Regions from separate parts of the Homo sapiens genome. Here region 2 is linked to region 1. Evidence: fine-mapped expression QTL. A gene starts in region 1. The other region holds a variant in brackets. All regions are shown on one strand. Distances are between the middles of the regions. Region 1 holds the start of BRSK2 (BR serine/threonine kinase 2). Region 2 overlaps BRSK2 (BR serine/threonine kinase 2).

What was found. PIP is the estimated chance that this variant, and not a neighbour inherited with it, causes the effect.
Region 2: its variant is the best candidate, but not a certain one, in a credible set for the expression of BRSK2 in sun-exposed skin (GTEx, PIP 0.86).

What each region holds. Positions count from the first base shown.
Region 1 is chr11:1,385,155-1,393,469 of GRCh38, reverse strand. It overlaps BRSK2 (BR serine/threonine kinase 2), which reads right to left and starts at 3,536. Exons shown (of 20, transcript NM_001256627.2): 1 at 3,095-3,536. The coding sequence starts at 3,185. RefSeq lists a silencer at 3,770-4,139.
Region 2 is chr11:1,460,159-1,468,473 of GRCh38, reverse strand. BRSK2 (BR serine/threonine kinase 2) reads right to left here. Exons shown (of 20, transcript NM_001256627.2): 20 at 5,785-7,974. The coding sequence ends at 7,751. Among named protein-coding and RNA genes, the nearest start is that of MOB2, 22 kb to the left of the region's middle. The variant G/A (reference allele first, on the strand shown) is at 4,212.

The DNA of each region.
Region 1 (8,315 bases):
TATTCCTTTCTCCCGCCCCCCAGACAGAGGATTCCCGAAGGCAGGCCCCTCATCGTCCCATGCAGCCCACCCGCCTGCCCCCAAGAACAGCTCCAAGGGCCCGAGGTTCTCCAGCTCCTCCCACAGGGCCCTCCCAGGCCTCCCAGATTTCAGGAGCTAAGCCGAGGTTTGGGCAAGAAGGTGCCCTGCTCCACGTACTGATGGGGCACAGGGACAAAGGCGCGCAGGGACAAAAGCCACCCAGCCCGTGCCACACACCCTCCTGGACCTGCATGCTCCAACTCGGAGTGTCTGCGCCCTCCAACCTCCATGGTTGCCCTTGCTGGCAGGGACTGTGTCTCGGCATCTCTGCAGGGGTCAAGCTCAGATGAGGCTACACAAGCCTTTCTCAGCCCCAAGAAAAGCTAAGGCAGCACCTTTGCAGGTGGGTTCCCACCCCAACCCCAGCCTACATCCCCCTAAGTCTTGGCCAGAAACCACCAAGCAGCCGGCGAGGAGGCTTCCACAGATGCTCAGTGCTCTGACGGCTTCACCTGGTGCCTGGCACCGGCAGTGAGACCACTGAAGGCAACCCCCACAGCCACCGAGGGGAGCTGTGCAGAGGACGCCCCATGCAGAAGGACGACCCTACAGCCACACTGGCCCTGCAGGACGCACAGACCCAACAAGACAGGGAGGTGCCGTACAGGTGAGACCATGCAGCGCTCACGCTGAAAGGCAGAAGAAGACAGCCGACCGGACCCTGCGGCGTCTAGAAGGGCGTCCTCCAGGCCCCGGTGGGGGTGCTGCGTGGTCTCCCCTCCCCACACGGCCAGACTCCCCAAGGGCAGGTTTCGGACCACATCTTTGGCCCACCGTCCAGCAGGCCCCAGCTTGGGTCAGCCGGGTGGAAGGGCTCTCGTGGCACCACAAGGCTCACTGCCACTGCCACTGACCACCTCCCTCTCAGTGGCCACCTCAAGTCGAGCAGCTCCTCCTTCCAAGGTCTCAGGCTGAGAGAGATGAACAGAGAGGGCCAAACAAAGCTGCCAGCCACAGACACGGGGAAGGGGCTGGAGTCGCGTCCACACCAATGGCCCCCCAAGCAAGGCCTCCACAGCTCCCCTGTGGCCAGGTCCCTGGAAGGAGAAGCGTTCTCAACGGCAGGATCAGATCGTCCTCGGGTGGTGGCGGCCAGAAGCCCAGCCTCCCGTTCTCCCACGGAGGTCTCCTGGCAGGAAGCCTATCTCCCTCTTGAGCTTGGGACCTGGCAGCTCTCCTGGCATCTGGTGCCAAGTGGCCCAGCACACACACTCCAGGCCCCATGTCCACCCAACTCCTGGTGACCCTTCAGCAGCAGCAACAGAAGACGCACAGAAATGGTGGCCTTCTCCAGGGCCCTCCCGGTGACACGCTTGCGCTCTGCCCGTCATAACTCGGGAGAGAGGGGCCGCTTTGTGCCCCCCCTCGAGCTGTTTTCTAAATATCTCTCTCAGCACGTTGTAGACACACACAGCCCATCCTTTTGTATTCATTACTGTTAATTACAGTGGAAACCTCCCGTAATTAACTGCCGCCAGCAGAATGCCATGAAGAGTGGAGACCAGCCCCTACCCACCGAGGCCGCGCACAGCACATAACTCATCGTGTCTTCATTTACACGCAGATGTTTCCTTATAATAACATTTTATTGGGACCGTAATTGGATTATCTCACTGACTCCTGCATCCTGCTGCCCTGGGCCCCTCCTTCACCACGGATTTCACACACTAGTTTTTCTTTCCGGGAAAGACGAGAATTTTGAACTCAGGTGACATGGGCTGAATGCCACCTCCTTCTCCAACCCAGGCTGCACCACCCCACCTGCCCAGGTCCTGCCCTGTGGCCAGGGGCCCTTCCGTGCCGTGGCGGGTGGCGGAAGGCTGTGCACCCAAGGTGAGGCAGCTCCCCTGAACCCCTCAGTCTAAACCCCTTCCTGCAGCTCTGCCGTAGTTACATCACAGCCACGGCCCTCCCCCAAGAGCCTGGGCCTGGCCCACTTTCTTTCCCCAACGCCACCTCCCAGCTCCTCCTCTGTGCAGCCGTGAGGGGCTGAGCCTCCACCCTGCACCAGCGCTCTCCTCCTCCTTCCCTCCACCCCTGCCCGCCCGGGTCTAAGGAACTTCTCGGATTGGAAGGGAGAGGCAGTGCCGTGGGACCTCGGGGACACCAAGAGACAGGCCGGTCCTGAGAGAAGAAAGAAAATGGCTGAGCCCCAGCCTCCACAAAGGCGACTCTGTGAATGTGCCTGACCAGATGAAGGGCTAGCCAAACCCAGCGGGCCGGGGAGAGTTGGCCACATGCGAGGGTAGCTGGGTTGCCTCTGGCCTGGGTTCGGCCCCGCAGGGACCCGGCCTGTTCCCTAGAATGACAGCCAGGCCCCACCGGGAAGCCCCCTCCACCGGCAGGCCGCGGGGCTGCTCCACGGGTCAGGTCCCACGCACTTCTGGTCCCAGCACCAATGGCCTCTCCCTGCCCCGTGGGAATGCAGGTCACAGACGCTCCGCCCGCCCGAGCCCGAGCCGGAGCAGCGCAAGGCGCTGTCCAGCCCTCTGCAGGTCCCCGCACTCTCCCGCCCCCACCGCGGAGGGAGATCGGGCCTGCCCGGAGGCCCCGGTGGCCGGCGCGCGGAGGTGGGAGTCCCGCCGGGGGCGCAGCTGCTCGGGCAGCACGCCTATTAGCGCGGCCGCGGCAGACGGCAGATGGGCGCCCGCGCGGCCCCCTCCTCCCGCGGCACAATGGGCCCGGTCGCTGGGGCGCACAATGCGGCCCGGGCCGCGCACCTGCAGCGGGGCCCGAGGGGCGCCGTCCCGTGCGCCCCTGTCCGCCTGCGCGCCCCGCGCCGCGCCGCGTGTCCTTGGGCCGCGCCCGGCCGACCGCAGCCAAGCGGCCTGCGGGATCCGCGGCGGAACCGGGGCGCACGAGCGGACGGGGGCGCACGGGCCGCCCATTGTTCGCGGCCGGGGCCCGGGCCGGGCCTGCGGCTTCGCGGCCGGGGCCTCCCTCGGGCGCCCCCCACCCAGCGCGCTGCCAGCGCGGCCTCCCCGGCCCCGGTCCCCGCCCCGGCCGCACGCACCTGTCTGCCCCTTGCCCAGCGTCTTCTCCAGCCGGTAGGGCCCAACATACTGCGCGTGCTGCGCGCCGCCGTCCTTCCCCGTCGATGTCATCGCTCTGGGGCCCGGCGCCGGCCAGGGGCGCCCGGGCGCGCGGGCAGGGAGGGGCCGCCCAGCGTCCGCCCGCGTCCGCCGAGTGCCGTCCGCGCCGACCCGGCCGGGGCGCCCCCGCGGGCCCCGCTGCTTCGCGCCGCCCGCGTCCGCCCGCGCCGCCGCCCCCCGCGTCCACTCCGACGCGGCAGTCCGAGGCCTGGCCCGCGGCGACGCCTCCGCCTCGTCGAGAGGACAGGGCGGGCGGGGGCACCTGGCTTCCGCCGCCGCCGCCGCCGCCGCCGCCGAGGCCCGCGCCCCGCGCCCCGCGCCCCCAGCGCACGCCCGTCAGCGGCCGCGCAGCCGAGCCGAGCCGAGCCGAGCCGAGCCGTGCAGCTGAGCCGAACAGCCGAGCCCAGCAGCCGAGCCGAGCCGAACAGAGCCGAGACGAGCCGAGCCGCGCAGCTGAGCCGAACAGCCGAGCCCAGCAGCCGAGCCGAGCCGAACAGAGCCGAGCCGCGCAGCCGAGCCATGTAGCCAAGCCGAACAGCCGAGCCCTGTAGCCAAGCCGAACAGCCGAGCCGAACAGCGGAGTCGAGCGCAGCTGAGGGGAGCCGAGCCGGGCCGCGCAACGGAGCCGAGTCGACACGAGCCTGTACGAACGCAGCGGGATGCCGTGGCGGCGGCAAGCGGTGCCCGCGCCGGCCAATCAGCGCCTCCCCACCCCGCCCCGCCGCTACGAGCGCTCGGGGAGACTCTAGGGGGCGAGGCGAGGCCAGGGCGAGGCCGGGACCTGGGAGCCTCCAGCCCGCCGGCTGCCACGTCCGGTCCCACCAGGCAGCAGAGCTCCCGCTGCCGCCCGACCCGCCATTAAGGCGCATCCCGGGACGGAGCAGGCAGTGGGCCCATGGCGAGGGGGTGCAGATGGCTGCCCTGGACGGGGGTTTTACCCTGCAGGGCGTGACCCCGGGTGTCCCAAAGAGTTTCCCGCCCCTCGAGGGGGTGCTGCACGCGCGGGGGATGGGGATGCTGCCCTGGAGGGGGGCGAGTGTTGCATGCGGGGCGGGAGTGCTGTACTGGGGAGAGGTGCTGTATTCGGGGCAGGGGTGCTGCACACATGGGGGGTGCTGCACGCCAGCGAGGGGCATGCTGCGCTGGAGGGGGCGGGTGTTGCATGCAGGGCGCGGATGCGGCACACGTGGCGGGGGGGCTGCATGGGAGTCTGTGGGGCTACTGCACGCGGGCGTTGTCCAAGCAGAGATTGTGCACCCCCAGGGAGGACGTGGCCCTCCGCCTCCGCTCCCGAGGGAGAAGCGGCGGTTTTCCCAGTTATGCCACAGTGACCTGCGCGGCGCGGAGTCAAGGAACTCACCTGGGATCCGGCCGCAGCGCCCTGGCGCCTCCCGGCCCTTGCTACCGACCCCTCTTTCAGGTTGAGCAGCTGGGCAGGGGTTGCCGGGAGCAGCCTTTGGAGGTCTAAACACAGGCAGCCGAAGAGGCAGCCAGACCTGGACGGACCCTCTGTTTCTTTGCAGAAAAACACTGGTATTTCCTTAAGCCCGTGCTGCAGAAGGTGGTGGGAGGGGAGAGGTGAGGGAGACCCGGAACGCTGCAGAAGTGGGGGTCCCAGATCTTGCCCGTGTATGGTCTGCGGGCAACGTTTCCCCTGCGGGCTCTGCCACACACTGCTGCTGACCGTGGTCCGCTCCCCACGCTGGTAAGCCCGTATGAGCTCAGGAAACTGCGGGGTCTTCCCAGTGCGCCCTCCTGCTCTTTGGGCTGTCTGTATTTCCAGCTGGGGAGGGGAGTGGGCCCCAAAGCACCTGTCCACTCTCGGCCTGCACCCGCCCGCCCTGCTTCCCTTCAAATGCTGTGGACTAAGGGTCCTCCCTACCCAATTCTGGGGCCTCTGAGCATGAGCAATCAGGGCCCCACCAGTGGGGGCAGGGGAGGGGGGCTGAGAGCATGGGACAGAGGCAGAGGGCACTCCCCTTTCCCCCGCTGCTGCTGCTGTGAGTGGGGACAGCAGACATTTTTAGCTGAATGTAGACTGGGACCTCCAGCTGGAGAAACTGTCAAGCAGTGAGGTCTGGCTGGAGGCTGACTGGGAGTGGTCTGGTCCAGGTGCCAACAGAGGCCGAGGGTGTGCAGGAGACCAGGAGAGGGCGTCAGGCCACAGCCAGAGGGCAGGGGCACTTGACCTGAGATGCCCTCTCTCTGCTGCCATGGTCACCTGGCCTCCCAGGCTGCAGCAGAGTCAGACGCACCTTTGTGACATCCTCAGCAGCATTTTGCCCTATTGACCGTTTGCATCCGGCTACTCCAGTGGCCAAAATTCTTGCTTTCTTCCTTCCCACCTCCTTGCCAGCCTGCATCCCTCTCCCAACCCTCACTGCAGCCCTGAGGCCTTTTCTTCCCTGTCTGTGTCTGAGCAGCCTATGCCATTGGTGGCCTCTGGGGCTCAGTCTGGGGCCTCTCTTCTGGCTCCCTGCCTGTCCTCCGGGCGCAAGAGGCTAGTCAGCCTTCAGCCTCTTGAGTGCCTATCCTCAAATCGCCCTCCCAGCCTCCCTTGGCCCTGCTGTCCCCTCTTGAAGGTGCTGCACAAAACCCCAGACTCAACGCCTTCTCCATAGCACGCCGCGCCCTCCCTGCTGCCATCTTTGTGGGGATCAACAGGATGACTGCCCTTCCTTCCAGCGGGCCTGGTACTGGGGTGCCCCAGGAGAGGGTGTACCAGGGTGTGGCCAGCCAGTAGATGCCCACGACTGTGATGCCACAGCCCTCGGTCCCCCTCTGTCGCGTGTAAGGTGGGAGCAGGAGCCCCAAAGGAGCCAGGGCTCTCGAGCACGAAGGTCTGTTGCCGGAGTTAGGAAAGGGCCCAGTCTCACAAAGACGTCCAGGCCAAGACTCACCAGTGGAGCCCACCAAACACTAATGGAGGAAAAGCACCCCGCTACACAGACACTTCCAGGACACAGAGGAAGACGGGCCATGTCCCAGCTCCTCTGTGAAACTGTCATCACCCTGGTGCCAAAACCATGCAAGGACATGACAAGAAAATTAAAGTCCACTCAGGAGCCTAGACACAAAAATCCCTTAACAAAACATCAAATCAATTCCAGCAATATATAAAGAGAACACATATGACCTTGTGGAGCGTACCCGGGAATGCAAAGTTAGTTTAACATTTCAAAATCAATTGTCATTCACTATTAGCAGACCAACACAGAAAAACCACACGGTCATTTCCACAGATGCAAGGAAAGCATTCAACAAAATTCAGCACTCATTCACGACAAAGGCTCTCAGTAAACCAGGAGGAGAAGATTCGAATCTATTCTGCTCCTGCACTCCCAACCCAACAAAGGGAAACTACAAAAACCCACAGCTAATGTCAGGCTTAGTGGTGAGAAACTGAAAGCTTTTCCTTGGGTCAGGGATGGGGCAAGGTTGTCCATCATCATCATTTATTTCAGTGTCGTGCCAGAGTACATGCCGAAGTAATGAGGCAAGGAAGACAAAATTTGTACCAGTTGAAAAGGAAATTTTTTATTATTATTATTATTTTTTTTTTTTTTTTGAGATGGAGTCTTGCTCTGTCGCCCAGGCTGGAGTGCAATGGCCCGATCTCGGCTGACTGCAAGCTCCGCCTCCCGGGTTCACGTCATTCTCCTGCCTCAGCCTCCCAAGTAGCTGGGACTACAGGTGCCCGCCACCACGCCCGGCTAATTTTTTTTTATTTTTAGTAGAGGCGGGGTTTCACCGTGTTAGCCAGGATGGTCTCGATCTCCTGACCTCATGATCCACCCGCCTCGGCCTCCCAAAGTGCTGGGATTACAGGCGTGAGCCACCGTGCCCAGCCAAAAAGGAAATTTTAGGTGATCTTTATTAGAAGATAACATTAATGGCCGGGCACGGTGGCTCACGTCTGTAATCCCAGCACTTTGGGAGGCTGAGGCGGGCAGATCACCTGAGGTCAGGAGTTCGAGACCAGCCTGGCCAACCTGGTGAAACCCTGTCTCTACTAAAAATACAAAAATTAGCTGGGTTTGGTGATGGGCACCTGTAATCCCAGCTACTCAGGAGGCTCAGGCAGGAGAATCGCTTGAACCCACGAGGCAGAGTTTGCAGTGAGCCGAGATCATGCCATTGCACTCCAGCCTGGGCAACAAGAGCAAAACTCCATGTCAGAAAGTAAAACAAGAAGATAACATTATTGTCTGCAGAAAATTCTAAGCTACAAACTGGTACTAAAACGAATAAGTAAGTTTACCAAAGCCACAGGGTACAAAGCCAAAAAAAGGTCAATTCTATTTGTGTGCTAACCATCAATTAGAAGTTGAAATTATGAAAACAGTACCACTTACAAAGAGAATTTAAAAACCACGAAATACTAGGGGTAAATTTATCAGAATTTGCATGAGATCTGTACACAAAAAACGATTATACATCTCTCAGTATATTAAGTGAGACTTAACAAGGCCCAAGTAATCGATTTAATTTTAATTTGATTTTTTAAATTTTCTCTTTTTTTTTTTTTTTTTTTTTAGAAATTGACAAGCTGCCAGGTGCAGTGGCTCATGCTTGTACTGCCAGCACTTTGGAAGGCCAAGGTGGGAGGATAGCTTGAGCCCAGGAATTTGAGACCAGCCTGGGCAGCATAGCAAGACTCCATCTGATATAGTTTGGGTATTTGTCCCCGCCCAGACATATGTTGAAATGGAATCTTCAGTGTTGGAGATGGGGCCTGCTGGGAGATGTTTTGGTCATGGGGTGGATTCCTCGGGGCTTGGTGCTGTCCTTGCAATGGTGAGTATTCGTGAGATCTGGTTAAGTGGGAGCCTCCCCTCCCACTCTCTCTTGCTCCCACTTCTGCCGTGTGAGACCCCTGCTCCCCCTTTGCCTTCCACCGTTATTGGAAGCTTCCGGATGCCATGCTTCCTTTACAGCCTGCAGAACCATAAGCCAATTAAACCTCTTTTTAAAATAAACTACCAGTCTCAGGTATTTATAGCAACACAAGAACAGCCTAACACATTATCTCTATGAAAAATAAAAATAAAATAGCCAGGCATGGCTACACACCAGGACTCCACACTTGTAGTCCCAGCTCCCTGGGAGGCTGAGGTGGGAGAATTGCTTGAACTGGAGAGA
Region 2 (8,315 bases), 75 kb before region 1:
CTCTGCGTGGACCCCCAGAGTGGAGGCCCCAGGACACCCACAGAACTTGACTGAAGGGGCTGAGCGTAGGAACCTGAGGCAGGGACCGGCGCTGGCCTAGGTAGCAAGGAGGTCCCCCGGCGAGGGAGGGCAAGAACAGGGGCGGGTGGCCTGGTGGGGCCACCCTCTGGCTGAGGCCCCGTCTAGGGTGTGCAGGGAGCTCCTGGCTGAGGCCACAGGGAGCCAGCCTGGCACACAGCCTGGGTCGCTGTGTGCTGGCGAACCTGGGGCCTGGCTGCCGAGCGGAGGCTGGGTGGAAGATTGGACTGAGAGTGCTGTAGGGCACAGGGGGCTGGGGGCCAGCTCCACTGGGGCTGAAGGGGCTAGGAGGACACCGGGATTCCAGCCAGAGCCTCCAAGGCAGCCTCAGATGGAGCGTGTGTGGAGCCCGTGGGACGGCCTTAGGAGGTGTCCAGGGCGCGCATTCGTGCCGGTCTCACACTCAGGATGCAGCTGCAGGGTCCCCAGGGCACGTGGGAGTCGCGGGCATGAGTTCCTTTGGGAAGGGTGCCTGGGATGAGGGCTGGCGCTGGGCGTTGGGGGCGCCTGCTGCTAGGCCATTGTCTGGTGGACCTGTCCCTCTCCTGGGCTGAGGGGACTGTGCTGTGCGCTGTCCTCCACTGGGATGGGTTCTTGCTGTAAGACCTGGAGTCCTGGTCAAGCCTTCCTGCCTCTGCCTCCGTTTCCCTCCGTGAACAGGAGGCCTGTACACTGAGGGGGGTCTCAGTGTTGAGGGCTCAGCCTCGCCCCCAGCTGCAGCCATGGCTCACTAAGTCTCTATCTATGGTCTGTGTTCTGAAAGGCAGAATGATGGTCTCCAAAAGAGATCCGTGTCCTAATCCTAAGAGACTGTCTCCTTAGATAGCACAGCAGGATGGAAGCTGCAGATGGAATCAGGTTCCCGGTCACTGACCTGAGGAAGGGGAGGTTATCTGGATGGGCCCAGTGTTGTCAGGAGAGCCAAGGGCACTGAGCAGGGAGGCAGCGGAGGAAGACAGCGCGGCGTGGGAAGGGCCTGAGTCAGCAGTGCAGGCAGCTCCTAGAAGCTGGGAAAGGAAGGCACCCAGAAAGAACTGGCCCTGCAGACTAGCCCGGTGAGGTCCGTTTGAGGTAAGTTCATTTTGCCTCCAGCCACGAAGTTCATGGCAACTGCAGCAACAGGAGATGAAGGCAGATTTTGGTTCTAGGCATGAGGCACTGCTGTAGCAAATACCTAGAAAGGTGGAAGTGGCTTTGGAATTGGGCTGAAAGAATTTTGAGGGTGATAGAAAAAGCCCGTGATGTTGTTAAACAGGTGGTAGAAGGATGGAGGCGAGCGGGGCTCGAGGGGCTCGGAGGAACCAGCCTGGGCTCTGAGAAGAGTCAGAGCCCCTCTGACCCGCCCGTCCTCGGACATGTGGGGTTAAAGGTGCAGGTGGGAGCTCAGAGGGAAAGGAAAGAACGGGAGCCAGGGAGAGCCCCGTCCATGGGGGCAGAGGTGCAGCTGCACTCTGTCCCGTTGCCACGTGCGGGCAGCACTCGAGGGTGGTCAGCCTGGGCCCCTTGCGCTGCTCAGGTTGGCCACTAAGTGAGAGAAGGACATTAGCAGAGGGGTGAGCACCCTGCCATCGGGAATTCTCAGCTGAAGATGCTGATGTCAGGAGATTCACTGTCAGGAATGTGTGCTCAGAGTAACGGCCACACCAAGAGCTCCTGGAGGAGGGCGAGCCTGTGGCTGGTGGATGCCCCGGGTCACCCAAGCAGATGCTCAAAGCAGGGACCGCTGTGGGAGGTCTGTGGACGAGCCTTGGGTCTGTGGACGAGCCTTGGGTCTTACGGATCCGGTGAAGCCCTGTGGGAACCACGAGAGGCTCTTAAACCATCAGAAACTCAGCTGGCTTGGACTGAGGCAGAGGGGATGTGATGAAAGGCTCTTGAGCCCCAAAAATCAGCAGGCAGGAAGCAGACTAAACTGTTCAGCTGCAAACACTTGCTACGTTTCATAAATAGAGAGCATGGCCCTGAGGGTGGAGGTGTCAGCACAGAGGCAGAGTTGGGACCCACAGAAGGAGTTCCCAGGCCTTGCTGGGACGGAGGAAGTGTACCCAGCTGGATTTTGGATTTCTTGGGAGCAGCGACACAAGCACCTTGCAGCTTTCTCTGTGTGTCACGTGTGTGTGTGTGTGTATGCACATATAAATGACTGGGTTTCACCGTCACCCAAACTGGAGTGCTGGGTAATCCTAGCTCACTGCAGCCTCAGACTTCCGGGCTCAAGGGGTCCTCCCCCTTCAGACTCCTGAGTAGCCAGCACCACAGGTGCGAGCCACCACGCCCGGCTGATTTTGAAATATTTTGTAGAGTTGAAGTTTCACTACCCAGGCTGGTCTTGAACCCCTGGACTCAGGTGATCCTTTCTGTCTCAGCCTCCCAAAGTGCTGGACCGTCACACCCAGCCAAACTTTCCTTGAAAACAGGAGTGTCTGTGACTGGCATTCCGCGTCTGTTCTCTGGTCGTATTTTGGGAGCAGGTAACTGGTTTTCTAGCTTTCGGGGTCCACAGATGGAGAGGAAACTGCCCCAGGGTGGAATGCCCAGAGTGTCACCCATACCTGATCGGGGTAGCTTAGAGGGTGCGACTTGCGACTTGTGAGCTGATGAGCTGTACGTGAGGTTTGGGACTGGACTGGGTGCTGTGTTTGGTGGAGACTGTTGGGGCCGTGAGGGGAGGGATGCATTTGCACGTGGGATGGGTGTGAAGCAGCGGGAGTGGGAGGGTACTGCGTTCGGCCTGAGACATCCCTTACCACTGGTGATGTCCACATCTAGTCCCATGGAAGTGAACGTGCCACCCAGCAGCAAAGGGGAATGAAAGCAGCGATGGGATTAAGGCAATCAGCTGACCTTGAGAGGCAGAGATGGTCTGGGCCCAGTGAGAGCACGAGGCCTTCATCGTGGAAGCTGGACGCAGGTTGGGATGCGCAGGACACAGCTGTGAGGAGGCTCCACCCACGCTCCTGGCTGCGAAGGTGGAGACCCCAGGCCACGGGATGCAGGCGGCCACAGGTCCTCCCCTGGAGCCTCCAGGAGGAGCACACCTTGATTCTAGACCAGGGCACCCCTTGAGTGAGACCTGCCCAGTCCTTGACTCTGGGACTGTGAGGTATTGGTGTTTTAAGCTTCTTACTTTGCGGTAACTATGGCGGTGATAGGAAACCACAGGAGACAATGCATCTACCAAGCAGGCCAAGGCGTTCTTACAGGGTCCTGGGGGCAGGTGCACAAGAGGGCCCAACTCCCCGGCATGAGACCCACAGTGTAGACTGTGCCAGTCTGGCTGGCACGAACGTGGCTCCCCGGGTAGTGTTCCCTGCACGTCTGTCAGCCCTGCCCGCTCTCCAGCAGGCCCCGCTGCCTGGAAAGTCGCCACTGGTTCTCCCTCCTGTTGCTGGCCTCCTCCTCTCTGGCTCTCTGCTGACCCCGACCCCTTGCCAGATCACACCAAGAGACTTGGGTTGGTGGTAGGGAGTTGGGGTGGGATGGGGAGAAGTCACTGGAGTGAGTGGGGAGGCACTGGACTTAGGGCAGAGGGCCTGGGCACCACACCACTGGAGGGCAGGAGGCAGGCAGGACGGGGAGGCAGGGCCAGTCCACCTGTGGTGAGCTCCCTGGCGGGATGGGAGCAGGGCAGCTGGAACGCCCCACCTTGAAGCTGGCATGCGGGCATCAGCCTCCTGCAAGCTCTGAGGCTTTGTGACACCAGGAATTGTTCCATCTTATAGCTTAGGAGGCTGGGGCTCTGTGCCTCTGCCTTCAGCTGACGGAAAAGCCCAGGGCAGGCTCCCCATGGAGCAGACCTAGGCCTGGACTGCTGTGTGCAGGGCCCCTCCCTGGAGCACCCACCTCCCACCTGCATCCTGTACAGGAGGTGGGTCAGACTGTCGTCCCCCGCCACCCACCTGCCATCCCATGGGTGGGCTCACCAGTCGGCTCGTTCACCAGGGCCCTAGCTCTCAGGCCAGGCCGTGGCAGGCTCTGAGCCCAGATGTGTCCGTCGGATTAGCCACCTGGGAACTGAGGACCAGGACTGTGAAGCCATCCTCTAGGTGGGCAGACCGGCCACCACATCCTTTTTCAATCTCCATTTTAATTTCTTCATAGAAATGATGTGAGGACCGACTGGTGTAAAGTGA[G/A]ACTAGTGTCTGCCACATCAGAAGTCCTGCCATATTTGTTTTCATTTTTTATATAAACCAGCAGATTCTGGCTTAGCTCGCTTTGGGTTCTGTTACTTACAACCAAGAGAGCTTGGTGTCAGAAGTGGGACTGCAGGACACAGCCCCTTCCTGAGCAGTGGGGAGCTGGCAGGACTCTTGACACACTGTTTCCTTTTGGGCCTCCAGTCATGGGCCTGAGAAGGCTGACTTCTCACCGTGAATGTTTAGAGGAGGGCCAGGAGTGCGTGTGTCAGCCGCTCTCAGAGAAGCAGGTGCAGGACCACAGGTCAGGAAGGCTTCCGGTCCAGGGCCAGTAGCCTGCGACCCCACAGACTGTCCTGTGCCTCACTGAACCGTAGCAGCCAAATTCCTTTCCTCAGCCTGTTTCTTAAGGTAAAATGAACTGGGAAACTGTAATCCAGGGATTGGAATGGATCCTGATTCCCTGGGCCCCTCCCAAGTGCCTTCTCTTCAGGGTACCAACCTCCTGTGAGCTCAGCCACTTGGCAGTCCAGGGTCAAACAGAGGACGGCTCAGCTTCCCTCTGTGTCCTGGGCTCTGAGCGGAGCCCTGAGCTAACTAAGCCTGACTAACATGGTGACCCCCTGGCTCCCTCCAGAGAGATGGGTACAGGCACAGCTTGAAGTTCAGGGCAGTGGCTCTCACCTGGGGGTGATTCTGTCCCCTACCAGGAGACTCATGGCAATGTCTGGGGACGTTTTGTCACAATGGAGGTGGGACAGCTACTAGCTTCTGTTGGGCTGAGACCAGGGATGTGGCCCCCACCCCATCATCATCTCCCCCCTCAGCCATGTGCTTAGCACCTGCTCCAATGATAGACAGCTGGGTGCAGTCCGGCGCATCTGAGTCCTTCACGTGGGAGGGAAGTGTGCGTGGGCCTCCCAGGGCAGCTCTGTGGACGCCGCAGTCTCTGCGTGGACCCTGCTGAGGCCTGCTGCTGGCCTCCTCCAGGCCGCGGTGGACTCCCGGCCACTGGCCTCACACAGCATGGGCCTGGACTTGCCCTTCTGCTGCGGCGGCAGAGGGGCAGCTGGGCCAGGGCGTCGTGCCAGTGGAGCCCACGGCCCTGGCTGCCCTCTGTGGCAGGTATGGCTGGGACCATCCCCGCTCTAGCTCCAGGGGCTGTGCTCAGCCTGGGCCCCTCACTCCCAAGGCTGGGTCATGGCACCCTATCCGGACCCTTCCCAAGTAAGGAGTGGGAAGAAGGCTCATTCTCCAGGAAAAGGCCCAGGCCCTGGGTGGCCGTGCAGGCCTTGTGGGGTGGCAGAGGTGCCGTGCAAAGAGAGCTCCGCCCAGGCCCTGGCCCTCAACGGGAGCCCGCCTCAGGCTGGGGCAGCCTCGGGGGATGGCCCCACACATCGGAAGTGACCTCTGACCTTGGCCGCCCGGAATCTCACCCTCTTCAGCTGGGCAGAGGGTAGCTGCATTCACACTGGCGCAGCCCAGGGGCTGCAAGTGGGGAACAAGAAGCTGTCCCGGGCTGTCACAGAGCCCTGCGCGCCCGCCCTGCCCAGATGAAGACCTGCGTCGCTGTCTTTGCGGAAGGGATTTATTGTTCCGGAGCTGCAGCTGCTCACAGTTATGACAGGGGTACACTGCAGGGGCTTGCCCATTTCCGTGGCGCCTGCTGGAGTCCGCGTGTGTCCGAAGCACAAAAGGGGAAGGCAAGCAAGAGGCAGTTTGCTTCGTGTCCTCGATCTCCGTGGAGAGCCCCTTCCCGCCTGTACCGCCTGGCGTTTGCTGTCCTAGGTGTTTGCTTTTGTTCTTATGTATAGAAATCCCAGCCTGTGGCAGAGGTCTAATGTTAACAGAAGCGTTAAAATCTATACACGAGGTGGGTGGGAGGCAGGGGCAGGCACCGAAGCAGACAGACGACTCCATGGCAGAGGCATGCATCAGACCCGCCGTCCCCCACGGCCGCCGCACCCGGGCTGTGCCCGCCTGGGAGGGCTGGGCACATGGGCGGAAGGGAACACAGAAGCTGGAGCTGGGGTGAAGCACGGCGGCGGGCACTGGGCAGGGTGGGCCTGCAGCCCTCTGAGGGCTGCGCCCTGGGCCTCGCTCTGCACAGAACGCCCTGCAGAGGAGCGCCACCGACTCTTTGTCCTTTTTTTTCAATTTTTTCATTTTAATAAGAAAAGCCTCACAGTGCCCCTGCCGTCCTGTGTGTGGGGAGGGCCAGCTGAGGGCCCTCCTCCTACCCCTTCACCTTTGGACACAAAACCAAGATTGCCCCAGCCTGACAGAGGGGCGCTGGCGCTGCCGCCCGCTACAAGACACCGCCCCTCTGCCCCGAGCCCCCCCAGAGGTGGAGCTGCTTCTCCACAGAGAGACGGAACCCATGACAGAGCGAGCCGCACCGTCTTTAGATGTGTGTGTAGAAAGAAGCAGGAGCAAGGGACTAAAACACAAAACCTGGCCCTGCCCCAGCGGCGCCCCCACCCCCACACCCTTTTCCAAAAACCACCAAGAAAAAAAAGTTTATAAAAATATCTTGCAGGAATTCTTTAAAGTTTACAGTAGCTCGCCAGCCCCCCCGCGCCCCACCAGCTCTGTCCTCAGAGGGCGCCCTGGCCCCAGCCCCCCCACTGCCTGAGACACGCAGACGGCAGGGGATGTGGCCGCCGCCCTTCCCTGAACAGAGGTGCGGAGAATCCATAAATTAAAACGGCAAATAAATAACACTGATCCCAGCCCAGCGGCCTGGCCTGCTGGGAAGGCTCTGGTGCCGCAGGGTGTCTCTGTTTCCACCTCAGCCAGAGAGGAGCGCCAGAGCCCACAGCCGCCCCAGATGAGGCAAGGGAGGCGCGGGTGAGACGAGAGGACGGGAGGCAGCCTGAGGAGGCCAAGACTACACGGAGGCGGCGCAGCCAGGGAGGCGGGGCACGGGCCTGCGAGGAGGCCTCCAGGTGCGGCGTGGAGGCGGTGGACGGGGCCTGTTCCTGTGGCTACGTTGCCCACCAGGGGTCCTGGCCCCAGAAGGCCACCAGGCAGGCTGTTCTTGCTGAGGGGTCAGGTGACCGGGAGTCCGGGTCGGCCGGGCTGGAGGAGGCTCCCCCGAGCCTGGCCTTCCTCCCACGGGCCGTGCGGAGCTGAGGCGAGGAGCTGCCGCGGGGTGGACGGGGCGCTGGGCTGGGCCTCACTGCCCGGCAGCAACAGCAGGAGCGGAGGGAGGGCGGGTCCGCAGCAGCTGCCTTCGGTCACAGAGGATGGCCTCGTGGAGGTGACATGTTAACTTTTCGGGATAATTCCTGGTATCAGAGTGGAAACAAGCGATGCTGTCAGAGACAGGCAGAGGCAGAGACAGAGAGAAAAGAGAGCGGGCGCGGGTGGCGCAGCCCACAGGCCGGCCCCAACGCCCCTTTCCTTTCCTCCCAGGCTCTGAGAACAGTCTGGACGGACGGGCGGCGCGGCCGCGGGTCCACTCGGGGCAGGGCGGGCGGCGGGCGGCGAGGCAGCCGCTGTCAGTGCTGTGCTGGGGGGGGGGGCTAGTGTGTCTAAGGCTGCTCGCGGCGGGCGGTGGGCGGGCCCATCTTGGCCGTGTCCTTGCCCGTTGGGTACTCGGCGTCCCCTCCGGGGCCAGGGCCAGCGGCCGCGGAGTCACCGAGTGGGCCGTGGGCACTCCGCTTGGCGGGCGTGCTGGGGGCCTGGGCCGCCTGCCCGTTCTTCTCGTCTGAAAAAAGTTGTTTAATTACGTCAAAGAAGTTACTCAATGGGCTGCCTGGGTACACAGAACAGAGACAAAAAAAAAAAAAAAAAGGAAAAAAGAAAAAAAAGGGGGAGAGAAAGAGGAGGGGAGGGAAGGAGAGAGAAAGAGAACAAACAAACAAATGAACGAAGAGGCCTCGACGAGGGAAAGAACCCAGAGATGAGGCTGAGATGGGGCCGAGCGGGGACCGGTGGGCGGCAAGCAGGGTGGGCAGGCGGCGGCCGGCAGGGGCCCTGTACGCTGGGGGCTGTGCGGTGGGGAAGCTGTGCGCCGTGGGGCCAGGAACTTAGGACCCCAGCGCCTCCGAGCTGTTGCGCAGGACCCAGTGCTCCTTTGGCGAAGCGAGGCTCGGG